7 separate regions of the Homo sapiens genome follow, and regions 1, 2, 3, 4, 5 and 7 are each linked to region 6. Evidence: fine-mapped expression QTL. A gene starts in region 6. Each other region holds a variant in brackets. All regions are shown on one strand. Distances are between the middles of the regions.

Evidence for each region. PIP is the estimated chance that this variant, and not a neighbour inherited with it, causes the effect.
Region 1: its variant is the best candidate, but not a certain one, in a credible set for the expression of CDCA7L in skeletal muscle (GTEx, PIP 0.82).
Region 2: its variant is the best candidate, but not a certain one, in a credible set for the expression of CDCA7L in whole blood (INTERVAL, PIP 0.58).
Region 3: its variant is the best candidate, but not a certain one, in a credible set for the expression of CDCA7L in prefrontal cortex (CommonMind, PIP 0.55).
Region 4: its variant is the best candidate, but not a certain one, in a credible set for the expression of CDCA7L in prostate (GTEx, PIP 0.75).
Region 5: its variant is the best candidate, but not a certain one, in a credible set for the expression of CDCA7L in monocytes (BLUEPRINT, PIP 0.71).
Region 7: its variant is the best candidate, but not a certain one, in a credible set for the expression of CDCA7L in whole blood (TOPMed, PIP 0.89).

The regions. Positions count from the first base shown.
Region 1 is chr7:21,902,536-21,906,687 of GRCh38, reverse strand. CDCA7L (cell division cycle associated 7 like) reads left to right here. Exons shown (of 10, transcript NM_018719.5): 5 at 49-120; 6 at 232-399; 7 at 1,057-1,182; 8 at 2,429-2,578; 9 at 3,574-3,710. Among named protein-coding and RNA genes, the nearest start is that of CDCA7L, 41 kb to the left of the region's middle. The variant A/G (reference allele first, on the strand shown) is at 1,699.
Region 2 is chr7:21,873,859-21,877,858 of GRCh38, reverse strand. The region is part of intron 74 of DNAH11 (dynein axonemal heavy chain 11); the gene reads right to left. Among named protein-coding and RNA genes, the nearest start is that of CDCA7L, 70 kb to the left of the region's middle. The variant G/A (reference allele first, on the strand shown) is at 2,240.
Region 3 is chr7:21,717,207-21,721,206 of GRCh38, reverse strand. It overlaps DNAH11 (dynein axonemal heavy chain 11), which reads right to left. Exons shown (of 82, transcript NM_001277115.2): 43 at 3,282-3,432; 44 at 351-482. Among named protein-coding and RNA genes, the nearest start is that of DNAH11, 180 kb to the right of the region's middle. The variant G/C (reference allele first, on the strand shown) is at 2,165.
Region 4 is chr7:21,770,585-21,774,584 of GRCh38, reverse strand. DNAH11 (dynein axonemal heavy chain 11) reads right to left here. Exons shown (of 82, transcript NM_001277115.2): 56 at 586-819. Among named protein-coding and RNA genes, the nearest start is that of CDCA7L, 170 kb to the left of the region's middle. RefSeq lists enhancers at 2,159-2,767, 2,201-2,833. The variant T/C (reference allele first, on the strand shown) is at 2,172.
Region 5 is chr7:21,919,631-21,923,782 of GRCh38, reverse strand. All of the region lies in intron 1 of CDCA7L (cell division cycle associated 7 like), which reads left to right. Among named protein-coding and RNA genes, the nearest start is that of CDCA7L, 24 kb to the left of the region's middle. The variant G/TG (reference allele first, on the strand shown) is at 2,441.
Region 6 is chr7:21,944,128-21,948,279 of GRCh38, reverse strand. It overlaps CDCA7L (cell division cycle associated 7 like), which reads left to right and starts at 2,381. Exons shown (of 10, transcript NM_018719.5): 1 at 2,381-2,499. The coding sequence starts at 2,476. RefSeq lists enhancers at 1,783-2,032, 1,717-2,427, 2,423-2,572 and a silencer at 2,713-2,762.
Region 7 is chr7:21,839,266-21,843,265 of GRCh38, reverse strand. It overlaps DNAH11 (dynein axonemal heavy chain 11), which reads right to left. Exons shown (of 82, transcript NM_001277115.2): 66 at 518-722. Among named protein-coding and RNA genes, the nearest start is that of CDCA7L, 100 kb to the left of the region's middle. The variant A/C (reference allele first, on the strand shown) is at 1,643.

The DNA of each region.
Region 1 (4,152 bases), 42 kb after region 6:
CCTGGAGCCCTATTTTTGTAAGATTCTTTCTTTTGTTCTGAACTTCAGCTTGCCCAGTTATTGGCGGAATTGAACTCGATGCCAGATTTCTTCCCAGTACGAACCCCAACCTCAGCTTCTGTAAGTAGAACTCCTTATAATTATACCAATACTGATATATGGTGATCAGCCACCAGACGGCTTTTATTCGAGAGAGTCCCCAGTTGTCTCTGTCTGTGCTCTTGATTTCAGAGGAAGAAGACAGTGAGGCGGGCCTTCTCGGAGGGACAGATCACGCGGCGTATGAACCCAACCCGGAGTGCGCGGCCTCCTGAGAAGTTTGCTCTAGAGAACTTCACTGTCTCAGCCGCTAAATTTGCGGAAGAGTTTTACAGCTTCCGAAGAAGGAAGACAATTGGGGTATTTTCTGACTAATACATGAATTAGTTTTTGTCTGAGCTACCATCCCTCCAAACGTGAACGCACGTCACTGTCACCCCAGGGCTGGTTCTGACCCCGTGGGTCTGCGGCAGCTGAGAACTTGCATTTCTCTCTGCTTCCCAGGTGATGCCATTGCTCCTGAGATCACACTTTGAGAAGCAGCCCTGGTCTAAGCTGGAGGTCACAGAGAGAGTCTTTTATCCAAGCCGAGCTGAGAAGCAGCTCATTTGTTAGGACCCTGCTTTAATCTCTGCTGCAGGCAATAAAGAAAAGTGCAGTGATTCCTCCTTGCCTTTCTGTTTTAGGCATGAGGCGTTTCAAGCGCTTTCAGTTTGGAGGGAGCAACTGTGGACCCATTTGTGGGTTTGGCTGTTCAGTGTGGTTCACCTCTCCACAGAGTTTACAGCAAAGAACCAAAAACCTTGAGTTCCTCCTTTATGATTGTATCGCCTTGCTGAGAAGGAAGCTTGGCAGGTGGCAGGAGCTCAGTAAATAACTAAATGAAATGGCTGCAGGGAAATAGAAGAGGGACGGGGTTAACATTAATGGTGCTAGATCTTTGAGAGTTTAAAATATTTATAATTTTTTTATAACTGCTCAACACATCTCCATGTTCTGCTTGTGTTCATTGTGCAGGGGAAATGCCGGGAGTACAGACGACGTCACCGTATATCTTCTTTTCGGCCAGTGGAGGATATCACCGAAGAGGACTTAGAAAATGTTGCCATAACTGTTCGAGATAAAATCTATGATAAAGTTCTGGTAAAGTATACATTAATTGTCATTCTTATTGGGAGTCGAAGGCATTGGTATTGAAATCTCACTTGTTTTTAAACTCTATCAGGGCTTATGCCATCTCACCAAGGGCTCAGAGCCAGGCTCTGAATTGGAGGGTCAAAAGTCAGCTGTACCTGGGAAAGGGGAGGCAGCCTAGTGCAGTAATTCCCATCTGGACGGCGGTCTCTCTTAGGGATGCGTAGAATCTGGGGGAAGGGAACGGTATAGTTTAAAAGGGATTTTTATATGTAACTGTTAATGGTTTAAGCATATAGTTTTATGTTCTAAATATTGAAAAAAGTATATTTGGGGGGTAATATAACCATAGAAATTAAAGTTTGGCAGAATATCTTTGGTAGGAAATGGGTTAAATTTCTTCTAAATGGTGATTTAGAGGGAGGCTTTGCGTTCTGCATTTTTTTTGTGTTTTTCTGGATATGTAACGGGACACTGTCAAGTTTTAAATTTAGTTGCCAATATTTAAAAAAAAATAGATCTCAC[A/G]TTGAAGGTATCCAGGTCTGCAGAGCTAGGCTGGGGCCGAGGTGATGCCACCCAAGGCTCATTGCCCCTCAGTCACCTGTCACCTTTCAGGGGCTCTGCCACCCCTGCCTCAAGCTTTTCTCTGGTCTCTCTTCCTGACAGCCTGATCATTTCATTCCTTCTGGGTCTCTGCTCAGCCTCATCTGACCTAATATGTTTCTCTGGCCACAGACCTGTGATGGTTACATTCTAGAGCAGTGGTCCCCAACCTTTTTGGCACCAGGGACTGGTTTTGTGAAAGACAGTTTTTCCATGGATTTGGGGGGCAGGAAGGGGATGGTTTCAGGATGAAACTGTTCCACCTCAGATCATCGGGCATTAGATTCTTATAAAGGGTGCACAACCTAGATCCCTCACATGTGCAATTCACAATAGAGGGTTTGTGCTCCTATGAGAATCTAATGCTGCTGCTGATCTGACAGGAGGCAGAGCTCAGGCGGTAATGCTCGCCCGTCCGCTGCTCACTTCCTGCTGTGCAGCCCGGTTCCAAACAGGCCACAGACTGGTTCTAGCCTGGGGGCTGGGGACCCCGGTCTAGAGACAATGCTGTGGTTCTTAGGAAAACAGTCCTGCTTGATTCGAGGAGACGGGGGTATTTCTTCATATACTTGGAAATGCACATGGTGGCATCTGGCCTCATTGGGCATCAGCATATCCCTGTGTTCACCTGCTCACTGCCTTCCCCCTGTAGGGTAACACGTGCCATCAGTGTCGACAAAAGACCATCGACACCAAGACAGTGTGTCGGAACCAGGGTTGCTGTGGTGTGCGAGGACAGTTCTGTGGACCATGCCTGCGGAACCGCTATGGGGAGGATGTCAGATCGGCATTGCTGGACCCGGTAGGAACAGTGTTTGCATTTGTTGTAAATTGTATTGGTGAAGGAAGCAAGCTATAAAGATGGGCCTCCTGGGTTCTCACTGGGAACTAGGGAGCTCCAGAACTCTGGTTTTTCCCTTCCATTTGTATCTTAAGGCTCCAGGGAAAATGAAAAATAGGGATTCCTTCTGGAAGGAGAGCAAGCTGACCAGTGAATAGAAGAATTAATGTTGTTAGATTTTCCATTGTCAGAGCAAAACTTGCTTACAGTCCTCTAGTTTTATGCAAGTAATCCCTGTACCTGTCCTTCAGCAAAGTGATTTCCCTCTGATTTGTTTTGTTTTTCCTGGGCCAGGCTGAGAGGGAGGTGGAGATTGCAGTATAGAGTGCTCTCTGTGTGCCTGGCACTGTGCAAGCTGTCGCTCACTCTGTTACCATAAATTTGTTTAATCCCATGAAATAGGTGTATAACCTCTCTCAGCTCCCTCGGTAAAATGAGACATAGTATCATGGTGAGTAGGCACGACCTTGAGCCTGGGGCAGTCCTGCTCCCGAGTGTGACCTCTTAGGCAGCAGTCATGGGGTAAATATATGGTCCTCAACTGACAGACAAACAAACTGCTGCTCAGGTTAGTCATTCAACAATAAGCACACATTGAAAGGGCTGAAATTCATACCTTGATATTTTGGAAACCTTGTGCTCCTAAACCAGGGCTGACATCCTGGGCCTGTGACCTGCATGCTCGCACAGGGCCCTGTGCTTGGCCAAATGCTTGTGAAAATCTCCATAATTTTTAAGCAAGGAGCCCTAAAAGGTGTCATTTTTCAGTGTTTGCATGTGACGTGGGGTGATTCAGCCTTCCTGCCTTGTGAGGAGCCCCCTGGGACGTAGACTGAAAGATGCCATGTGATTAAAGGTTGGAGGAGAGGCCAGCTGAGCCATTCTGGATCCGAATCCCAGTTCTTGCCAGACCCTGTAGATAATGAGCGAAGTGTCTGCTGTCATCTCTCTGTTAGGATTGGGTGTGTCCCCCCTGTCGTGGGATCTGCAATTGCAGCTACTGTCGGAAGCGTGACGGCCGCTGTGCCACAGGAATCCTCATTCATCTGGCCAAGTTTTATGGTTATGACAATGTTAAGGAATATCTGGAGAGGTAAGTAAGTCTCTAGCAGCTTACAAAACAGCTTGAAATCTTGAGGCTGAGCACAGGAGACCCTCTGGGCAAGTAGTTGTTGCCTTCCCGTGTGACTTACTTACTTATATAAACCACGAGTACCATCCATTCTGTATCTGTTTGCATTGGAAAAGCTCAGGCCTGATATTTTCCCTATTAGGGAATCTTCTCCTTTGCTAGATTTTTCAACTCAACTCCACGTTGCCTTTAACCAAAATTTCTCCTTGAGGTGTATGACAGAAATGGAAGGAACAAACAAACAAGGCAGGCTGAGGGGAAAGACACAGATTATGAAGAGGCAGCCATAATCCTAGTGCAGAGAGAGAGTTCAGGGCAAGAGGACAGAATGTGAGTTACAAGTTTCATTTATGTAATTAATAAACTCTGAATCGTGGTTCTGGAATGCGGGAGTGAGGCAAGT
Region 2 (4,000 bases), 70 kb after region 6:
GTGTTGCCCAGGCTGGAGTGCAGTAGCGCGATCTCTGCTCATTGCAACCTCTGCCTCCCGGGTTCATGCCATTCTCCTGCCTCAGCCTCCCGAGTAGCTGGGACTACAGGCGCCCACCACCACGCCTGGCTAATTTTTTGTATTTTTAGTAGAGATGGGGTTTCACCTTTTTAGCCAGGATGATCTCAATCTCCTGACCTCGTGATCCGCCCGCCTCGGCCTCCCAAAGTGCTGGGATTACAGGCGTGAGCCACCGTGCCTAGCCTCAAGAGGCTCTTTAGCTGAAAGGCGTAGGTAGATGGTATCCTACAAGAAATGGTTCTTTATGTCCCAGCCACTTGATTAAATTTACATAAATATTCTGGAATGCTCAGGATAATAAAGCACTAGTATTAAACAAACTGTTCATTTTGAATACACATGCCAAAGTTTGGAGGTAAATTCTAAATTGAGGGGAAAGATTAAAAATATGGATTTAAAAATTAGCCAGGCATAGTGGCATACACCTGTAGTCCCAGCTACTCAGGAGGCTGAGGCAGGAGGATTACTTGAGCCCAGGAGTTCAAGGCTGCAGTGAGCTATAAGTGTGCTGCTGCACTTCAGCCTGGGTGACAGAGCAAAAAAAAGAAAAAAAAGGTTTAATTAGATTTGAAAAATACCCTAGCAGTACAGTTGACTTGTCTAAACCTCTTGGGTATTTTACTCCACTGTGAGGGACACCCAGGCAACAGGAACAACTGGTCCTCATTTACCTAACCCATATGGGTAACAAGAGAGATAGCATTCATCAATCTATCCATACACAGGCTTTAACAAGATTGGACCACAGCAGCAACACAGAACACCCCAAATAATACAAGGAGATGTGGGAAAGGACATCTGTGATGGAGACTGCTGATTGCCTTCCTTAAAATGTCTTCTTGCTAATTTTTAGCTGGGCATATGGTTGCTTAAGATAAATTCACTTTTCCCAGCCTCTCTTGCAGCTAGGTAATGCAATGTGACTAAGTTTGACCAATGAGATGAAAGGAGAATTTCTGTTTGTTAACTTGTAGGAAGCACTTGCACAACAAAGCAAACACCGTCCTTTTCCTTTTGTCATCTTGTTTGTTTCTTCTTCCATCCTCCTGTCAGGAATGTGGATATGGGGGCTGCAACTCCTGCAGCCACCTGGGACCGTGAAAAGCCCATTCTAGAAATGGTGAACTATAAAGAGCCAGATTGATGACAATTTGTGGTAACACATGACTTCTGAATGGACTATCTGTAAAACTCTCATGTGGCAGGACTACTTTTTGACCTTGTATAAGCCACTGTTATTTTATAAGAACTTTTTTCAAAAGTAGCCAACCCAACATTCTAACTGATAAAAGGGCAATGGGAACATATTCACAGAGAGCCAGGGAGCACAGGCTAAATCCCTTGAATTATATAATCTGATTAAAAACTGCATTTTGTTTTCTAACATAATGACAGGTCAGCATTCATAAAAGACTCTAACATTTTAGATTTTCTGCACATTTTTTATTTTGTTGGTTGGCTCTGGCTAAGATAGGTTTGATGAGAAGATTATTTAGTGAATCACTTTGGTTATCTTTGCTTTTGCTACTTAACATCAAGTTCAGTCTTAATATTTCAGAGGATCCTCTCCACTAAATAAGCAATATTCTTCCTTGGGCCAGGTGCGGTGGCTCACGCCTGTAATCCCAGCACTTCGGATGCCGAGGCGGGCAGATCACAAGGTCAGGAGATCAAGACCATCCTGGCTAACACGGTGAAACCCCGTCTCTACTAAAAAACTCAAAAAATTAGCCGTGCATGGTGGCAGGCACCTGTAGTCCCAGCTACTCGGGAGGCTGAGGCAGGAGAATGGCGTGAACCTGGGAGGCGGAGCTTGCAGTGAGCCGAGATCGTACCACTGCACTCCAGCCTGGGCGATAGAGTGAGACTCTGTCTCAAAAAAAAAAAAAAAAAAAAAAAAGAAATATTCTTCCTTGAAGTTCCTAAAAGCCCTTCTAATAAAAGTAACCTTCAATTAATAAAAGTGGCTTTCCAGATAGCAGTCAAAAGAATTGACAGGTTCATGAAAAGACCAGAACAGGTGTTCTTAACTAGGGAATTCATGCATAGGCTTTGGGGGAATCTGTGAATCTTTATCATTATATGCAACATATTTTTAACACTTATTATTATTTTTTGAGACAGTGTCTCGCTCTGTTGCCCAGGCTGAAGCACAGTG[G/A]TGTGATCATAGCTCACTGCAGCCTCGAACTCCTGGGCTCAAGTGATCCTCCTCTCAGCCTCCTAAAGTGCTGGGATTGTAGGCATGAGGCACTGTGTCTGGCCCAATGTGCAGTATATTTTCGAACGTGTATTTCCCTGGGGAGAGTGTCCACAGTTTTATGAGATTCTCGAAGTGATCTTTACCAAAAAAACAAAACAAACAAACGAACAAAAAAGCTGAAGGATAATTGGGCTGAAGCATATTTGTTCATGAAATGTTCACTTTCATGAATAAAGATACTTATTTTAGGGGGCAGATAAGTCCTATTTAAATAAATCAAATTCCTCTTTGTATGTACTTTGGGAAATAGCTTGAAAATGTCATAAATAGCCAGAAATTATAAATTAAGAGATGATTAAAAAACATATATGTCTGTCATAGTGGATTAAATAAGGCATATTGCAGATACTTAATAGTTTCAAAAAGATTTTTTGAGTCCTACTATTTACACAATCTTGTGTGTATATATAGGATAAAAATTACTCAATTATTTAATGAAGTAATTAACTGCATTCTTCAACACTGTATTCTTAGGTAGTCAATTATCATAATTCCTTCATAATGTTGGTTTACGTATTGACCCAAAAGTTACGAGAAAAGAAGCTAAGGATGTTAACATGCTTCGTAGAGAATGATATTTCTAAGAGGGGGCTGAATATTTATCACCAAATCATATGTATTTCCTCTTTAGGGTTCATTCTACTGTCCTAACAAGAATGCGATTTACCAAGGATTTCCAAAAAATTAGAGGAAGGAAGGAAGATCTCAGAGCAATAGCAAGAAAGGAAACTGAAAGACTTGACAATGATGTTGATAGATAGGATAGTTTGGGTAAAAAGAGTAATGGTAATAAAGGTATCATATATATATCATATATATGTGTATATATATGTATATATACGTATGTATTTATGTATTAATTTATATATGTATTTGGCCAGGTGCAGTGGCTCACACCTGTAATTCCAGCCAAGGTGGAATTGGGAGGCCAAGGTGAACAGATCACCTGAGGTCAGGAGTTCGAGACCAGCCTGGCTAACATGATGAAACCCTGTCTCTACTAAAAATACAAAAGTTAGCTGGGCTTGGTGGTGGGCGCCTGTAATCCCAGCTACCTGGGAGGCTGAGGCAGGAGAATCGCTTCAACCTGGGAGGCTGAGGTTGCAGTGAGCCAAGATCATGTCATTGCACTCCAGCCTGGGCGACAAGAGCAAAACTCTGTCTCAAAAAAACCAAAAACAAAAAAAAACCATGTAAGTATTCATTTGTCTTATCTTGGAAAAACATGAACATATAAATAAGGTGTCATAGATATAACCCAAAAAGAGGCCTTTAAATTTACTCATATCAAACCGGGCTAAAACACTACACTGAAACTTTTACCATGTCATTACTGTCGCCATCATCAACAAGAATAACAATGGCTTCTTCTCTTTCTGTGGTCAGAGATACTAGTGTGCCACATTTGTTTTCAAGAAGCAAGTTCCGGCCAGGCGCGGTGGCTCATGTCTGTAATCCCAGCACTTTGGGAGGCCGAGGCAGGTGGATCACCTGAGGTCAGGAGTTCAAGACCAGTCTGGTCAACATGGTGAAACCCCATCTCTACTAAAAATACAAAAATTAGCCGGGCGTGGTGGTATGCAGCTGTAATCACAGCTACTCAGGAGGCTGAGGCAGGAGAATTGCTTGAACCCGGGAGGTGGAAGTTGCAGTGAGGCA
Region 3 (4,000 bases), 230 kb after region 6:
CAGGGGCAAGTTGGAGTATGGGGCAGAGGAGGAGATCTGTCTCAGGCACACTGAGTGGGGCTTCTTGTAGAACAGCATGCTGAAGGCGAGGCCCCAGAGCAGCCAGAAACACAGAACTTTCAGTTCAGAAGACACAGCCAGGCTGGAGGGTATGGATTTGGCATTGTCAGCTGGGGTTAGAACCATCAGGGATGGGACTACCCAGAGAATGCATAGACTTAGGAGAGAACAGGGCAAGCAGTATAGATCTATAACATAACAAAAAGGTACAGATCACATGTTTTAACCTCCCCATGACCCTGTCCCACACAAAACTGGAAACTGGTCCTGTAAACTATTTCTAAACATACCTGATCTTGTAGCAGGGTGCCTCCAAAAGCCCAGATACAAGCAAATACAAAATAGACTTCATAAACTTCTTTTGGGCTGTCAGAAGGTACATTTTCAGGAGTCAGCAAGCACTCCAAAAGAACACATAGAGTCTAAAGAAAAAGAAATAGTCAAATAAGGCAACATTTTTTTAAAATAGTGAAGTTCAAAGAATATTTTTACAACTCCACTTTATCCTTAAGAGAGTACATAGTTTTTCCCAGCTGTGATTTGCTACATTGGGAGAGACAAAAATTACCACCTTGGGTGTCTAAGTTAACAGTAGAAAACTTGTCACTTTCAACCAAAATGATCTAGGTAATAAACTATTTTTTAAAAACAAAATTTTAAACAATCCAGTTAATAATCAGTATACAAACCAAAATCACACATAAGCAAAAAAAAAAAAGGGTACATATTCACTTTTTTATAAATAGGAAATCATTTTCTAAATAGTATTCTATAATCCACTTCCTTGATTAAAAACTGAAGACATCTTTCCTTATCAATAAGTGTTACTCTACACCACCACTGGAATGGATGCAGAGGATTCCATTGGATGAAGAGGCATTTATTTTACTATTTCCTTCTTGTTGGACATTCAGATAAACCACTTTCGGTAAGCGCTTTGGCAGCCAGTTTCCCACCCGTTGTCATAAATTTAGAATGTTGGACTGGCAGCTTAAGCCTGTGGCAGTTTTTTGGACACCGAACTAAATTTAACCTTGAAAGAAATGCTGTTCAGGAACTCAGGAACGTGTTCTTCATACTCTCCAGGTGAAATGGCAACGTGCTGGGCGGTCCTCATGTACCTAGCCCATGCTTAGGGCAGTTGCGCCAGCAATGAGGGGAATGCGGCTGCTGCAGAGGCCTTCACCATGTGAAATAATAACCAGTAATGAACAGGTTCTGGGGCTAGCTCTCTAAAGCACAGAAAGTCGTCATTAATTAGCACTGTTACAGATCCTAAAAACTCAAGAGACTCTTCCCCCAGTTTTTGCAGGCAACGATAGATTTTCATCTCTATTATACACACAGCAACGCAAGCGATCACAGATCAGGTCAGCACTGTGTGTGTGCCTTTCCTTCCTTGCCACAGAAGATGGGGAAATACTTTTCATTTAAATTATTGAGCACCTATTATATTCTTTAATCTTCTTTCTTGGCTTCTATTATTTCATGTTGTGCCACATTTGCCAATTTGAAATAATCTTTTAATAGAAAAAAACTCACCAATTTGCTATTAAGAAAAACAGTGTAAAACTCTGAGGCTTTGTTATTTTTTAGTAGAAGCCATGTTGTTCTAAGGCACTGTTGAAATCAAAACAAAAAAGACTGAAGGGTCTCAACGTGACGCTATCTGCTGAGATGAACACACGAATACGGCCATGTGTTTCTTCTATTTTCTCCCACAGTACTTGAAATATATTTTGAGTTCTGTGTCAGCATTTAACGTACTTTAATGAGTAATCTGAAAGAGTTAATAAACCTTACCAAACTTAAAGAGGCGTCATATATCGGAAAACAGAGTGCATTAATTTCTCAAGATAGCCATTTCAGGTCACTATCTTCTTATACCCATTTTTGTCTCAAATTTCCATACTTATTAGTAACCACAGAAGAGAAATTACTCTATAAAACAACAGCTTAAAAGGAGCTAAAAATTAAATGCCCTTTCTGAATACAACAAAAGAAAGAAGTAGAGCAGAAATCATATTAATTCCTACTGACCTATTTTCACACTACTCTTGAATGGAAAAGTTCACACCACAGAGAATCACACAAATACACAAGT[G/C]AACTTGAGAAAGAACACGATAATGCTTTTTTGCAAGTATTACACCAGAGGGAGTCTAATTAGGCTAACTACATAATTAATTCATAATGAACAAATTCAGACCTGCTTTCGGAAATAAATTATACCTCAGATAATTACTGTTGAAGACTATCGTTTATTTAATTGGTGTGCGAATTATCCAAAAACCTGAACTTTCTCTTCTTATTATGCTTGTGACTATTTCTAATTTTGCGTCAAACAAATTTGGTAACACACTCACTTAATGGTAACAAAGTACTTAGAAAGCAATTTTGCTCTTATAGCAAAAAAAGGGTGTGGGGGTTTCTAATTGTAAACCTTTTCATGAAGTCTTCTACTTCTAAGGGCTGGGGATAGTTTTTCTTCATGCTGAGATGAAGATCACAGCCTTCATTTCTGTGTGTTGTGAATTATTTTCATTGGCTTCCATGACAACATATTATGTGTAACCCTCACTCTTACCAGCTGTCTCAAGATGAAGATGAGAAAAAATATATCCCTGGGATATTATGAACTCTTCATCCAGACTGACACTCCTCCATGAATATTTTTGGGAGGGGGAGGCCTGTGAGTGGTGGCACCTAGGTGGTAGAATTCAGAGGCTTTCTCTTACTCACTGGCTGGCATCTTTAATTGCACAAATTTGTTTTATTAGAAAACATACTGAGCACCTTCTCTGGGCAAGTTACTTAGGAACCAGAAAAATAAATAAAGCTATTGCAACTTTGTTCTTCTAATTCTGTGCAAAGACACTGGAAAGGAACACAGTGATTCAACAAACACATATCTGGCACCTACTATGTGCTAAGAGCTATCTGGGGATACTAAAAAAAAATCAGTAAAACATGGTTCTAACCTTCTTTCACAAGATTGTGAAAAGAAGGAGAGCACAAACTTAAACACTAACAGAATGTGATAGAGGTTTGCAAAAAGATCCAGGGAACATGGGGGACGGGGGCGGGGGCAAGAGGGTTGCAGCAATCTAACAATTCCAGAAATCTTCTCACTTTCTTGGGCAAGGCAAGATCTTCTGTTGTCTTGATCAACAAACACTACCGCATCAGAACTAGAACGTTAAATGGCGTAACCGAAGACAAACCTGCACCAGGCTACTCTCAGGAATTGAAGTGATGGTTTTAAAGCTTGTTCTCAGTTTATCCAAGCATGCAGGGACATATTTATCAAAAAGAATAGTCAAATTGGCCTTTTCTGATTGATGCCGCCTTCTGTCTATCCAACTGGCCACATACCTGAAAAGGAACACAGAAAAGCTTTTATTGAACACTAGGCTTGAAAAGCAGAATTTCACCAAGTCAAAAGCTTCCTCCTTTGACACAGCTTGGTGCAACACTTCAAGGACACGTTTAGTGAGTTCGTTCTATTTTTCAAACTGCAAATATTTTAAAATGGCCCTTTAAAAACTTGTTTTAATGGCCATTTTACCTTAATGAAAAGACTGTAAAAGAAACTCCTAATAGCACTCAGAAGCCAAACATAATGGAATATAAGTAGACCATTACCGAGCATTTATGAGGAAGTGCACTATGTCATTTCCTGAAGGGCTGAAACTATTCCCATAGTGTAGGCCTTATTTATGAAAACAGCTTGTGATTTTTCTTGATTAATCTTGGCATCAATTATTTAGTAATAAGAAATCAGTTACGAATAAAAAGATGAAAATTCCGTAGGGGCTATTTCAAAGTGTCTCCTTTTTCAATGGACTGAATGTAACTCCAATCTGATAGCTGCTAACGAGTTTCCAATAGGTGGCTCTGATATGGCGTTTCATGCTTGGGTGCTGGGGTGTGTGTGTGTGTG
Region 4 (4,000 bases), 170 kb after region 6:
ATAATATGTGTACAGACCCACACATGATTAACATCCTGTGATGATTCTCTCCTGATTTACTCCTGCAAGTTAGAGGCATCGCCCTTCGAGGGAGCAGGGGCCTCAGGACTGAGGACACAGATGTGTAAGAGGAGCAGACAAGTCACTAAGGGAGGAACAGCTCTACCTTGGGATCTCGCCACAGTCATTAGCCAGAAAATGATGCCCTCACTGGAGGTTGAGAATCTGAGACCAAAAAAGATACTGGTCCATCCTAGGATGATAAGAACCTTGACGACAAGTACCGTGCACTGAAGAAGTCAGAGACAAGAGAGGCAATCCGCTGTGTCTGCTCCCTTCAATATCCCACACTACCTTACACTGAGTCAGGCCAGGAAGAGAACGTTTCACCCTAATCCAGCTGTGAGTCGGCCAATCCCATTGTAGGCTTTTGAAAGCAGTAGCAGTGTATTCTTGGTGTCATGAAACTGTAAATTTCACCAGCTGGCATCTTATAGAAATGGATTTAGTAGTGCTTCAAAAGGAAATATATTTTTCTGTTAAACAGCATAAATATTACTCAGTAATAACACATCCTGGTCATACCTGAGAGGCTGTGGTTTTTAGCTTTTGGATGCCGTTCACCAGGCGTTCTTTTTTCTCGGATACCTCATTTTGCTTCTTCTTCAACAGGTTCTTAAACAGTGATATTTGTTCTAGAAAACTCTTTGGGGTGGTATAGTTGTGTCTTCTCTCATTCTGGTAATATCTGGTACTCATTTCATTTACAGTGGTGTGAACATGTGCCATGAAAAGGCTAATAGAGTCTTTGTGCACTGGCTGAAAACACAAACATTACAGTTCATGTGAAATCCTCTCAAATTAAAAATACAACTTAAAAAAAATCAAGTAAATGATCATTTTTTTTCTAAAAGTCAGAAAAAAAAATGATAGTATAACCTACGAAAACTTATTTAATCTTTAAGCGCTATCCACAGGATTTGGGAGATTACAATAAAGCATTCAGCTTGAGTAACCTTCTTCTTGCCAAGTAGGACAAAGGGTTTTTATGTGCTCCACATACCAAATACAAAAGCCAGCATATACAGATCTTCACAACTTGATTTTTATCTACCGAGTGTGTGAAAGAGAAGGTGGAGAAACAGACACAATATCCTGAGAAATATTTCTGCCATTGCTTTCAAACTAAGCTTTAGACAAAGAGAAGCAATAACCCTGCAAAGTCACTGAAAAAAAAAAAAAAGCCAAAACTTAGAAACTCACAGTTTTATGAGAACTCATGTAAAAACAAACTGGATAGTAGGGTATAAATGTCACTGCTTCTGGGAGAAAAATATCATGATCATTTCTATTCATATTTGGGAAAGAAAACCCACAAAAAGAGCAACTCTCCTTCAATGAGTTACTGGAAGACCCCCCACTATACATTCTTTCCATTTTGTCCTCTATGACTTCTGAAGTAGTTAACTTTTTAATTTGCAGAGTCACATCTCCCTCATTTTAATGATTATTTATTGCATTCTGTACAAGATGAACCAGGTTCAGTTAATCAAGGGAAGCCTACAAATCAATTAATATGAATTAAATGAGCTACACCAACTCTTAGGAAAGTCACACATAATTTACCAAAGTGTTGTCAATAATGCTCAGACGTCTTTGGGAAAATTGCACACACGTGGCTGGTGATGCAGTCAAACATTTCAAACCTGCACCATTAATATTACAAGCAGAGGTGTGAAGAGAGACCAGCCAATTCTTGGTGAAAAACAACTGCTCCTGAACAATGTCTTTAAACAATCAACTTTCCAACATCACGACAAATTCCCGAGTGGGTTTGGAATACCCACATATTGCATTGTGCTGCGTATTAAAAATCCATCTCACTAGTAACTGAAATAATGTATTACTAAAACAAAAGTTAAAAATAACGTGATATAAATTCCAAATATTCTTGGTTTCTAGTGGACCCCAGATACAAATATATTTCCAAACAGTGAACTCAGAAAAATAAAATTTATGAAGAAGTTTATATAAACTTCATATAAATCATAATCCTTTGGAGACTTTATTTTTACAAGAGCTTGACTTCAATACAGACATGTGCAGGAATTTACTCCTGTCCTGTCTTGTTTTAATGGGAACTAAAGGTACACACATACCTTTCTACAATA[T/C]AGATAAATAATTCCTCAGCCAAGTGTAACCTCCTTACAGGAAGGGAAAAAAAAAAAGAAAGAAAGAAGAAAAAAAAAAAACACTCTGGCCTCTGCCCAACCATGATCCTTATGAGGAGGCTCCTTGGAGGCGCTGAAAGCTCTCTTTAACAACAGTTTCATTTGTAAATCGGGGATGGAAGAAGTGGTTTCCGGTAGAGCTGAAAGTGGCCTGAGACAACTTGTCTCAATGGGGCAAAATAACTATTGTTATCAGGCTTAACAAAATGGCACAGCATGGGAGACTCGCTGAGCCAGGGAGCAGCTGGTTGTAATTCACACTGTTTTTCAGAAAACTCTAATCGTTCCAGAACAGACCTCTTTGATGACTGGTCTTCCCTGCATTCTCAATTTGTCACTTTCTCTTATGATAAGGTCAGTAGTGACAGCACTTCCTGACATTAACAGCTGTGGCTTTTAAAAGGGTCATTGTAGAACTACTAATTGCAGTAATTTCATTAGCATAAATTATTTATTCTGCCATTCATTTATCTCCAGTTATTTTATTTTATTATTTTTTTTTGTGGGGGGCGTTGGGGGAGAATTGAGAGGAGTTGCTGCTGGTGCTGCCGCAGCGAGGGCTACGCAATGCTGTATTTTTCACTTTGAGAGACGTGAGGGGAGAATATCATTCCTGCTAGATTTGGCCTCTTAATAAAAACCAGTTGATAACCACTTATAGTCATTTAGCAGCTAATCATGATGATGGCAAAAATAAAAATAAGCAGAGTGCCAGTATCGAATGGTTATAAACTCAAGGTTTCCCCACTAAGATGCTCTGGAAAACGATGCTGTCTCCAACGCATAATCAAATGCAAAGATGAAACTGCTTTCCCTCACATTAAGAAAACGTGTTTAATTTCTACTCTCTCAGTTGGCTCACTGTCAACACAAAAACATAAACAGATCTCTGCTATTTGGTGTGACAGTTCTCGGGCAGGAGTAGTCTCTGCCACACCAAGTACTCCAGCCACCTGGCACTTCAAGCAAGTGCCCAGTATATTCCTCTTGAAAATGACAAACAGCAGAGTTGAATATAAACCAATACCCAGAGGTCAGCACTAAATCAGTTTAGGATTTTATACCTTCCCAAGACCAGCAAAGATGACTACATTGGTCTGTAATACTAAATTTGGGCTTTCAAGAGCACTGTATTCAAGGGAGGGAGGGAGGAAGGGCAAAAGAGAAAGGGGCAGGTGAAAGAATCTATTTTCTCTCTTTTTGAAGTGTAACTTGGGACAATTTTGTCACATTAAATGCCATATACCTACAGTAAGTCTTGAACATTTTTCTCAGAAATTATTTCTGTGTTAAATTTTAAATATGTCAAACTGATGTGCTACACAATCTATTTGATCTTTTTGCTCCTTTTAGGGCTGGTAGAAGAATATATTAATAAGATATTTGTGGTTGCATGGTGGCTTATTAAAGAAAGAAAACTTACAATGCATAAAATGGGCAGTGTTGCATTTTAACACTTGTCCTAAGCTCTTCATAGTGCTGTTTTGCTCTGAGAAGAAGATTCCGGAGGGAGCCAGGGACAAAGGGTTTGAATCCTAGGACCTGGGCTAGATTTCCAGTTCTGAAAAATCTGGTAAGATACTGCATACCCTCCTGTACTTCTTCCTGCCCACAAAATTGCTCCTTTAAAAATTCTGTTTCCTTTCTTCTTTTACTGCTTTCCCAATAGTCAAACATTCATGCAATAGTCAAAAGAAGGATTTAAGACTATGGGCTCTGGTGTCAAACTGCAGATGTACCCCTTACCAGCGGCATTATTTACTCTTGGG
Region 5 (4,152 bases), 24 kb after region 6:
TCTGCAAACAGCTTTGTCCTCCAGACTATCAGTTAACTAATGGGCTTACAGGCTCAGATACCTGGTTGGTCAGACACTAAAGCTGAAGCCTTGGCACCTACAATGATGTATCTGAACCTCCCTTAGGTGAGAGAGTTGGGTTCTTAAGCCACATGCCCCTAAAGTGATGGTACCATTAAAACTAGGCTAAGGTCTGGACTTGTTCTGTCAGTTTGGAAGATTTCATTCACTTAAGGAAGGAAAAATTCCCCTCTACCCCGGTTTTTCTTTTTTTCTTTTTCTCTTTTAGAGACAGGGTCTCACTGACACCCTGACTGTAGTGTAGTGGTATGATCATAGCTCACTGCATGCAGCCTCTAACTCATGGGCTCAACCGATCCTCCCATTTTAGCTTCATGAGTAGCTGGGACTACAGGCACACGCCACCACAACCCAGCTGATTTTTGTATCTTTTTTGGTAGAGACGGGGTCTCACCATGTTGCCTAGGCTGGTCTCAAACCCCTGGGGTCAAGTGATCTTCCTGCCTCGGCCTCCCAGAGTGCTGGGATTACAGGTATGAACCACCATGCCTGGCTTAAATTGTCTTTCTTGTCTTTTTTCGTTGAATTCTTTTTAAATTGTGCTAAGATACATATAACATAAAATCTCCTATCTTAGCCATTTTAAAATGTATGGTTCAGTAGTGTTAAGCATATTTAAATTCCAAAACTCTTTCCATCTTGGAAAGCTGAATCTGTATCCATTAAACAGTAACTCCACGTTTCTCCCTCCCCTCAGCATCTGGCAAGTGCCATTCTGCTGTCTCCGAGGATTCAACCACTCTAGGTACCTGTTATAAGTAGAATCATACCGTTCTTGGTTTTATCGAGACTGGGTTATTATCATTTAGCATAACGTCTTCAAAGTTCATCCATGTTGTGGCATGTGTCATAATTTCCTTCCTTTTTAGTGTTGAATAATATTCAATTATATGTATGTCTCACATTTTGTTTATCCATTTATCCATCGATGGATACTTGGATTGCTTCCACCTTTTGGCTCTTGTGAATCATGATGCCATGAATAAGGGAAAGGATATAAAGTTTTTCTTAATCTTCTTAACACTTTGATGCCCTCTACTATTACTACTAGGCACTAGTAGATATATTAATACTGTTGGTAATATTTGGAATTCTGGCATTTGCAGTTTCCTTGGTGTCCCACAGAGCCCTATGAGTTCCACCGTGCATGTTCCCTGAACAAGTTTGAGATCCAGTCTGTAGATGGGAAGTTTCTTACCAACACTCAGATTCTCAGGTTCTCTGGGAATGTTGGAGGTCAGACACACCAGACCCCTGTTCCTGCAGGGCAGTGATCAGCTGGAGTGGAGGAGTGGCCTGCCTTCCCTGATATATGTGTTCAGCCTACCAGTCAGCACCATCCCATATTGTCCTACAGCTGACCTACTGCCCTGTTACCCACCTGCTTGGCCCCAAAGCCTGTTGAGTTGGCATAATGTATTTCAGAGAAAAGCTCTCAGGTAATCTGTATGGCTTATAAGGGAAACCTGCAGTCCTTTCTGAAAGGGGAGCTGTGAATATGACTGCTTTGTAGAAAGATGTCTTAGGATTCTGGGTGAAAATTTTTAATTCCCCTCATGTAGGAATGTCACAGAGTGTACCTTTTTGACTTAGTATTTTCCTAGTAAAATACACCTTTCTTAAGAAAATGGCTACAAAGTCAGATGCATGTAAATGCTTTCAGCAAGGGTTTGTTGATCATCTGCTTTAGGCTGGGCTCTATGTTAGGTGCCTGTGGATTCCATTCTAGTACCTGTGTTCTCATAGAATTGAATCCTGGTCCCCCATATGACTTTTGATGATATTCACACTGTTAATTCCAATAAAGACAGAGTAGACAAACAGAAACTGTACATGAAAGGAATAGCATGAAGTTGTCGATTTTTAACAAGTATTATAAATAATGAAACGGTCTTTTCACTTTCAGATGAGAATTTTCCCTTTTTTTTTTGGTTCACTAGATAGTAGTTATCCTAATTCAGAAGTTCAACTAATGTAAATATCCATTGATTGAGAAATTTTGTATTTTTGTTGTTTTCAGTTACTTGTTGTAGTTTTCTTTTTGGTGAGTCTTATGATTGGCTTTATTGTAATAGAATGGAACACAAACTTTGAAAAAAAAAAAAAAAGGTCTTGCATTTTTGTCTAGACTATGCAGCTACCCAGTGGATCGCTGCTGAATGGAACAGGAAAGTGACAGATCCTTGGGCCTAATGTATCACTGTGTTGTGGAACTGGTCATTCATTAGAAGAGGTCCCTGTGTATCCTTTCTATCAGGTCCTTCTCATATAAATCTTGCTGCCTTTGTTGCATCTGTTAGACAAATCAGTTCGTTGCATTGAGGACACTTGAATATTTTACAGTTTTTTTTTTTTTTTT[G/TG]GCAAATCTTGAAGCTTGTGACTATCTGAAACTCTTTTAATACCTTTTGAAGGATCAGAGCCCTGCGTACCCCAGGAATGCACACCGTTTTTTTGAAAGTGTGCTCTTTCCTTTTGTTCCTAATCAGTAATTATAGCCCCCTAATGGTACCTCTGGAGCAGATGCAGAAGTCAAAGATGCAGAAGGAGGAATTAGCTAGTCAGACACAGGCTCGCAGCAGTGGTGGGGCTGAACACAATAGCACAGGGACTAATGCAGTTGCTGCTGGAAGCAGTTTATTCCTATCACCAACCCTCTCCATTCCTTGTATGTATTTCCATTAAATCCATAAATGGGGTGCTCCTCCTCCTTTAAACCATTTATGTTAAAAGAAGCTTCTGGGCCAGCAGGGCTGTTTGAATTTTGTAGAATGGTGAGAAGGCCAAAAGAAAAAGACTGAAATTGACACACTGTCCCTCTTAGTGCCTCTGCAGGGACTGAACTCAGTGGCTATTATGTAGCTACAACATAGGCACACTTTCATAAGTATTGTCTGTGTTTCTCTAGTCTGGGTGTTTTCCTTGCGTATTAGTTCTGAGTGCTAAACAACAACAAAAGGTGTCTTTGAAAAGATAAGGTGGCAAACATTGTTTAACATACCTCCTTGAGAAAAGTTTCAATATTTTCCCCAAGAATGATGTCAGAGTTAGGCTTTGCTAGTGCTGCACTACGTGTGGCTGGTAAAAAAATTGTTAGTGGAACTCTACTTCTGTAAGTGTTGTTCTTGTTTGTCCCTTGCAGTGATTTTATTAGATGGTGGGAAAGTGTTTGTATTAACCCTTCAGCATCACTGAACTTGGGGTATCCCATTTCTGTATTTATGTTACACTTCCTTTGATTGAACCATTATTTTCTAATTATTTTTAATCAAGAAGCATTAAAATAAGGATGAAAGTAAATAGATTAAGGATTACCAGTTTCCTAAATGGAACCTGACTAAATGTAAAATTAAGTCAACACACCCACACAGAGAATTCCACGAAGCTAAGTAGCTTTTGAATACACAACTCTGTATATGCTAGTGCAGTGGTCAAAGTGTGAGATGGAGGACCTGAGACCCTTTCACGGGTCCATGAGGGCGAATGTAATGTCATAATAATACTAAGATTATTTGCCCTTTTTGCTGTGTTGATATTTGCACTGATTGTGCAAAAGCCAAAGTGGAGAAAACTGCTGATCTTTAGCATGAATCCAGGTGGTAGCAACAAACTGTATTAGTAGTCATTGCATTCACCTCCATGCACTCAATTTAAAAAGAAAATGTCAGTTTCACATAAGAATGTTCTGATGAAACAGTAAAAATTATTAAGTCTCAACTGTTAAGGACATCTTTTTAATATACTGCATGATGAAATGGGAAGTACATGTGAAACATTTTTGCATAACCATGTACAATGATCATCTGGTTAGCTGAAGGAAAAGATCCTGTGTATAGTGAGACTATGTTCCAGGGCTAGAAAGAACTGCAAAGAAATCTTGAACTGCACTGTTTGTTGTTGGTAGTATATTGGTGGCGTCAGTTTGGCGCTATTTTGTGTTTATTGTAGATAGAGCACCACATGGATAAGTATATTAAAAATTTTGGGAATCGAGGGTTTTCCTTGTGGTGGAACGGCGATGCTAATGTGAGATGAGGGAGAGATGAGGGAGCAGAGGAAGAAGCCTCCGTGTTG
Region 6 (4,152 bases):
TACTCTCTCATGGAAACATTTAAAAAGCAATCAAGCATGGATTTCTAGACAGACTTCTTAAAAGAAGTTGCAAACATTATGTCTTCTTTTTCTGTGTTGCAATATGTATACTGTTGCATCTGGAAGGGACACTCATTCTTGCAGTGCCATGATGAAACCCAGTGCTCACATCCCGTGAACCCTATCAGTAATAATTATTAGAAAGTATTACTGCAGTGCCATGTTTAAATCCTCTGGTTCCTTAGAGATTTTCCCAAAGCCTGACCAAAACAAAACAAAACAAAACAAAACAAAACACACCACTATATAATCAATTACTAAATACCATCAAACGTGTACAGGCTTTGCTAAGCACAGGAAGAAAATTTAGGGGTTGTCATCTGAAGACTTAGGGTTAGTTATGGCAAATTTCTAAACAGAAAGGTTCAACAGCTTACAGGTTTCCTGATACAGAAGTAGCTAGTCTAGGCTGCTTCAAGTGTTTTGCAAAATCTGACCTGCTTCAAATTTGTGCTCCCTTTTCCAAAATTGATTTGATTTAACCTACAATGAAAAGAAGTGCAAACAAGATCAGCAGTTCATGAGGAAGCAACTATCTAAAAAAAAAAAAAGAGGAAGAAGAGCTCTGATTGAATTAATTTTCACTCTAAGCTTCCTGGCAGCCAAAGGGAAAAAATACAGAAAAATGGAAAGAATGTTGGATCTGGAGGCATAAGGAATGGTTTTCAGTTTGGCAGTCTGCTGCTGTCACTTAGTGGCAGGGTGGCAGGGATCTCTTAATGTATTTTCTTAGATTCTGTTTCCTTATTTTAAAAATGTGGACAATAAGGATCTGGAAGGATATTGAGAGGATTCAAGGAGATACTGCATGTGAAGGAAAACTCTAAAGCATAATAAAAATGAAGTGGCCATAATGAATAAATAACATTATCCAATAAAAACAAAACATTTTAAGTCACACAATGTTGTATTGGTTTTACTACCACCAGGAAGTGAGAACACTGAGGGCTGGAACATGAAAGCACATAACACATGTTGTTTGCTGAACTAACCAAAGGAAGGAAGGAAACCTTTTCCATGTTTTCTCTTCAAGCTTGAGTAAATGTTTGGCAAATTTCATTCACTCGTTCAATAAAGAAAAGATGAACGTCAGATCCTAAGCAGCTGAGAGGGGCTGCAGAAGGTCCTATGCGTACAGGATGCTCTACTGTAAACCTATGACCACGGTTCTAAATAGGTGTGCAACACTGTCCAGCAAACCTGCTGTGATTTCAGGACAACTTCATTTACCATTCTCCCCACTCTCTACTTCAACTCTCCCACAATTTCCACAAACTTAATTCCTCACTCTTCATATCTGAACTCTAAGAAGTATTCCCTGACCTCTATCAGATTGTCTTCCTATTTCACACCACCATTAATACCACTTGCCTTTTTTCTCATGGCATCATCGCTCCAAATTTACATTTATTTGCATCATCATTACATTTGTCATTGATAGTGGTATCAAATTAATATTAATTATAAATCTAATTTATAAAATTTACATCGTTATTACACTTATTTGCATCATTATTGTATTTATTTAGAATAATGCAATTAGGTTGGTAACTGGCTCTCAGGCTGTAAACTCCAACAGAGCAGGGGCCTGTTTTTGTTCACCCTTCTGTTCCTAGGACTAGCCCAGTGCCTGATGCTTAGTAGATGCCGGGGTCAATTCTGTTAAATTAGTCAGCATTCCTGACCTCTACAAACTCTTTGTCTGGTGGGTGTGGAGGCCTACTGTGTAATGGCCGTCTAAAGTTTCAGGCGGGTTTGCATCTGTCCACCTGGGCCTTGGTAAAGAAACCTGGGTTGCCTGTTCTGCAAAGTGAACCCTGTAGCAAATGTTTTGGGAGACAGAATCTTCCCAAAGAGAACCCTGCCCCGTTACAACAACAAAACAAAACAAGCCCCAAAGCCGCCCTACAATATTTGCCTGGATCAGAGACAGGGGTTGCAGCAGAAGCTCGCGCCCCAGGGCATGACCTGGAATAAACCCTGCCAAGTATCCAGCGCGCGTGCCAGCTGGAGGCTGCGCCGGGACAGCCCCCTCATTTCTCCCGCGCTAAACCCCGCCGGACGGCTCCACTCCCTCCCTCTGCTGCAGGGGGGAGCCCGGCGCCCTAACACTGGTAATTGCTCTTGCCGCGCCCAACTGCAGCCCCCTCTCGCGCCGCCTGCGAAGACAAGGTCAGTGGCCGCGAAGTTGGAACGTGATCGGAGCCACGAGGCCCAGTGAGGCGGCACCGAGGGGGCAGCGCAACGCGCTCCCCCTGTCCAGGGCGTCAAGTGCGCCCCTCCCGGGGCCCGCCTGTGCTCCGGGCGGAGCGCGCTAGCTGCTCGGGCGCGGGGCGTTCTTGGTGCGCCGGGCCGTGGTGAGTCCGGGCTCCCGTGGCCGCGTGCTGGGAGGAGACTGGAGCCCGGTTAGGAAGAATGGAGTTGGCGACTCGCTACCAGGTGAGGGTCCGGCCGCCCGCCGCCGTCCGGACGCACCCACAGTTTGACTTCCCTTTGCCACCCGGTCCTGCTGGCCTTGGGCTGGAAACGTGGCCCTTGGCTGCGGCACTGGGGATCTGGCGCGCCCAGCCGGTTGAGTGCCGGAGTGGGCGCGCCCTGCAGGTGTGCGCAGTGGGTCACGTTTGTGCTACGCGGACCACAGAGGCCGGTCGCCCCAGCACACAACCGCGCTCAGCCTGGCGCTCTGCTCAGTCTCGGGTGGCCGCCGGGGGTGCAGGCGGGGAGCTAGCGGGGCGCAGCGCCTGCGTTTGCAGCCCTCGTGAGACGGGGGAGGGGCTTTTTTTGTGCACTCCCCACACTTTCTCCGGGAATTGGCACAGAGATCAGGAAGCTTAAGAAAGTTGTAATTTTTTTTTTTTAACAGTCGATCGCCAGACCAGTCCAACTTGGATAATGGAGTTTAAAAATAATAACTTTAGTGTTTATTCTAGAACTTTTGTAAACGTTTTCAAGGAATTAGTAACCATTTGGGGGAAATGGTAACGTCATTGGGCCGAGTTAAACAAGCTGCAAGATCCCAAATCATATGCACAGCACGACCCCAATTACGCGTTAAGGGCCTAACTCGTCTTTAAAACTCATTAGCAAACACTTGAGTAAGTTCCCCCAAACGTTTCAGTGAGTAGTGGGAATGTGAACGTGACTTCAGTTTTCTCTTTTTACTTCTTAAAAGAGCTTTTCTCTACGTTATCGTAATGGAGATACATGTTTACTTAGAAGTAAGCAATAAAAACATTTTTCATAAGAACTAAAAATACAACCTTTAAAAAGGGAAACAAGCAGCCACGCCTCTGCTTGTGGGAGCACGGAGATGCTTTGTGCGAGGATTGTTTTTTTTTTTTTTTCCACTTGTTTTATTGAGAGTCGCGAGACTCACTGCTTCCACCTTGCTTCCGACTGGTGTTTACTTTCCTCCACCTGCGTGCCTGGCCCGGGAGAAGGGGAGGCGGGGCCGCCAGCGTTGGAAGGCGCAGAGTGCCCGGCGCCCGAGCCCAAACCGCTGTCACCTGCCCGAGTCTGGCGGCAAAGACTGAGCCACTAACGGTAGCTTTGGCCTTTTAGTAATTTCTGAAGCCTTCCTGAAAATGGTCGCTTGAGAAAAATCTGTTGTTGATGTTTCTGAGAATATTTTTAAAATGCCTCCTGTGAGATAAACTATTAAAAGCAAGGGAAACAGTAAAGCCTACGGAATGAGACAGGGTTCGATTTTTTATTTTTTGCCACTGGCTTTTACCGTGTATTAGCATCCTTTTTTTTTTTTTTTTTTTTTTGGAGACGGAGTTTCGCTCTTGTCCGGGGTGGAGTGTAATGGCGCGACCTCGGCTCACTGCAACCTTCGCCTCCCGGGTTCAAGCAATTTTCCTGCCTCAGCGTCCCGAGTAGCTGGGATTACAGGCGCCCGCCACCACGCCTGTCTAATTTTTTGTATTTTTTTTTTTTTTTTAGTAGAGACAGGGTTTCACAATGTTGTCCAGTCTGGTCTTGAACTGCTGACCTCAGGTGATCCACCTGCCTCGGCCTCCCAAAGTGCTGGGATTACAGGCGTGAGCCACCACTTCCGGCTGGCGTCCTAACCTTCTAGGAGTTTCTGTT
Region 7 (4,000 bases), 100 kb after region 6:
TCTTTATTATTGCCTTTCTTCTACATTTTAAGGCTATGTTGCTTTGTTTTCTGTATATAACACTAAATTTCAGTATTTTCAGCATTGTTTCTTAATATACTTAAGGCCATGAATGTCCCTTTGAATACTAGTCACAACTAGCTACCAGGTCCTTAATTCTTCCAAGCTTGCTTCATTATACCTCTTTTTCATTCTTTAGCCCAGGCTAAATTAGTCGATTACATTCCAACATACCTGGGCACATACCTCTATTTTACATGACTCGTATGCCTCTTTGTTTGCCCTCAAACAAGATCCAGAGCCACCCTATCTCCTACGTGTGGCATAACCGTAACAATCTAGCATTTATGAAGAGCAACTTTGAATTGTTTAACTTTTAACATGTATACTTATTTTTCCCAATTAGGTTGCAGGATTCTAGAGGGCAGGAATCCTATTTTATACTTCTATGTCTAGCACTGTGATTTGTGCAAAGCAAATGCCGACTAAGTGTTGGTGGTGACGTAAACATTTTTACCTTAAGTTTCTCCAAATCTGGCCTTTCAATACTGACAACCTCTGCCAGCAGCTGGGCTTCTAGACCATCTTCTGTGACTGTGAAATTGAGGAGAGTTGTCTGAGCTTGTAATTCCGGCTTATAGTGAGGATTTGCCAATTTTGTGTGAAGGATAAGGCGAAAGTTCTTGTTAAATTCACATTCTTTATCTCCAATCCTGATATACCTAAACGGAGCAAAACACAGACTTTCAGGAGACTCCTATGACCCATAACTGATACTACGGTGTCATTCCATTCCTGTATTCTTATAATGGACCTTGGCCAGAAGCTCAGGTGATTGAGAATTTTTCAGCTACTCCCAAATTTCCTAAAGTACAGCAGGATCAGCAATCACCCAGCAAATCTCTATATGATTTAGTTTCCTCATATGTGAAATATTGACAATAATAGTACTCACCCCATAGTGTCACTGTAACAATTAAATACAATCATATAAAAGACCTATAACAACAAATATTAGCTTTTATTATTATACAGTAAGTCCTCGATGTAATCGATAAACTTGCAAACTGTGACTTTAAGCAAAACAACATATGAAGAAACCAGTTTTACCACTGACTAATTGATATAAACAAGAGTGAAGTTCCTATGGCATGTTCCTGGTCACAAAAACATCATCAAACTTCTAAATAAAGGCCTCAAACACCTCTAATATTAAACACTGAAATAAATGTGAGCTACATATACATTTTAAAAGGTTAATAAAAACAAGATAATTATTTACTCAATTTTTGGTGCATTAGTGAGAAATGGTGGGCATAGAGGGGGCAGGTTAAATTGAGAAATAAATGTGTACAAAGCAGAAAATCTTAAGCAGCACCTCCTACCACCACACAGTTCAAAAGCAATGACAGATCTGGCAGGCTTGAGAAGGGCTTTTGTAGTGCAATGTTCAGTGTCGTGCATTTGTATGATTATCGTCTAATTTACAAATTTTTATTTGACAATAGTTTGTATTCACTCATTCATTCCTTTTCTAACCCACTGATTCCAGTTCAGGCTCCCGGGTGGCTGCACACTACCCTGGAAACTCAGGGCACCAGGTGGGAACCAGCCCTGGACAGGATGTCATCCCATGGCAGGG[A/C]CACTCACACACCCCCACACTCACTCACTCACACTGGGACCATATAGACATTCCAGCTCACCTAACATGCACAGCTGTGGGATATGGGAGGAAACAGGAGGAAAAGAGAAAACCCAGGCAGACATGGGGAACGTGTGCAAACTCCACACAGACAGTGGTCCCAGCAAGCAGGAAGTGATGTTTTTTTCCCTCATCAACATTAGCATGAAAGTATGTTATTTCAGGGCCAGCTGTACTTTCTGTGATTAAACATACATTAAATGTTGCAGTTCTTTAAGGATAAGATGTGTATGTATGTGTTTATGTATATCTGTATATATATGTATAATGCATCTTAAGTATGTATTTAATATACTTATGTATCTTAAATAACGTATTAAAATATTTTATTTTTATAAAGATGAAATATTAAAAACACATATATTCTTTTTTGTGTGTGTGTGACAGTGTCTCACTCCTTCACCCAGGCTGAAATGCAATGGTACAATTTTGGCTCACTGCAACCTCCACCTCCTGGGTTCAAGTCATTCTTGTGCCTCAGCCTCCTGAGTAGCTGAGATTACAGGTGCATGCCACCACGCCCAGCTAATTTTTGTATATTTTTAGTAGAGATGGGGTTTTGCCATGCTGGTCAGGCTGGTCTCCAACTACTGACCTCAGGTGATCCACCCGCCTTGGCCTTCCAAAGTGCTAGGATTACAGGTGTGAGGCACCTCACCCAGCCCAACACATATATTTAAAAAATTACTTTCCAATACTTTCTGCATTGGCTTCCTGTAACTGCAAATCCTTGTCTGCCTCAACATCTCTACTTAACCCTTTCCTCTGAAAATTATTTCTGTAAATAGTCACTAGGCTAATTCTATTCAAAACTCCCAGCTTAATTCATGTTATTTTTTTAATTTAAGGGTACGTAGTAATCATATGTATTTATGGGGTACATGAGATGTTTTCATACAAGCTTCATGGTCTCTTTCCTGCTAGGAACCTGCTATGAGGATCTAGTAAAGGGGGAGCTTTCTAATTCATGCAAGAGACAGAGAAGCCAAAACCACGAATACTGGAACTTCTCAAAGCGGCCTAAGCTGCTTAGAGTGAAACTTCTTATGAGGCCTAGAGGCATGGCTGCAGCAAACAGTCTCGGCTCAGTCTTCTATTTTACCTTACATATGAAAATTTTGGATTCTTCATTATTAAGTGTATAAAATATTTAAATTGTATAGATGTCATGATAGAAAATTAGCCAGAGCCCAATTATTTTAATTGAAATTATTTTAAATAGCCATGAGAAAAAAATATTTATTGCCTATCTCATTGACTTCCAGGTGAGATGTTATTTCACTGAATTTGTCAATTTTGAACAACTGGGAAAATTCTAAAGAAAAGATGTTCTATCGCATTCAGACAGGGCTCCTTTTTATCGAAATGTCACAATATTAGCAACAATTTTTAATTTGAGGAGTGATATCCAGAATGCCATAAAGTGGCAATGTTTTCTGTGGTTCTTGGATGATGTTTTATAATTGTGTCTTGCTCAGAGATTAGGTCTCTTGTGTCTATGGTAAGGAAAGTGCCTCTGAACCACTGGCTGTGTTATTTGACTGGAAACATTTTTAATGAGACAACTGGTTTTAATGTGTAAAGACTATTTAAAAATTAAAATTTTCTTACATTACTAAAGCTTTTGTTGCCTGAATATGAATTTAAAATCCCAAAGGACTGATCAGACTTATGACCTATTGTCTTCATCTAATTCTCAAATGTTGTTTTCCCTGCAGAGTGATCTTACACTGACAACAGAAACCTTCAGAGTTGTTGATTAAGTGTCTAAACTTGAAAAAATTCTGCCAGATAAGCCACTTTTGAAAACCCTATTAGTTGAATGGTGAATTTATTCACTTTATTCAGTTTGGATTTGTTTTTACCTTGTCAGTACCTCCTACTATTTAATTGTTTTCCAAGAGGAGAATAAGCAATTCAGCTAGCAACCCTCTTCTGCCCAAGCCAGTATATACCTGTGCATTACATACGTCCCCTTTTTTTTTTTTTGAAACGGAGTCTCACTCTGTCGCCCAGGTTGGAGTGCAGTGGTGTGATCTCGGATCCCTGAAAGCTCTGCCTCCTGGGTTCACGCCATTTTCCTGCCTCAGCCTCCTGAGTAGCTGGGACTACAGGCGCCCACCACCACACCCAGCTAATTTTTTGTATTTTTTAGTAGAGACAGGGTTTCACCATGTTGTCCAGGCTGGTCTCAAACTCCTGACCTCGTGATTTGCCCCCCTCAGCCTACCAAAGTGCTGGGATTACAGGCGTGAGTCACCATACCCGGTCGGCATCAACTTTTAATATAGTGATTTA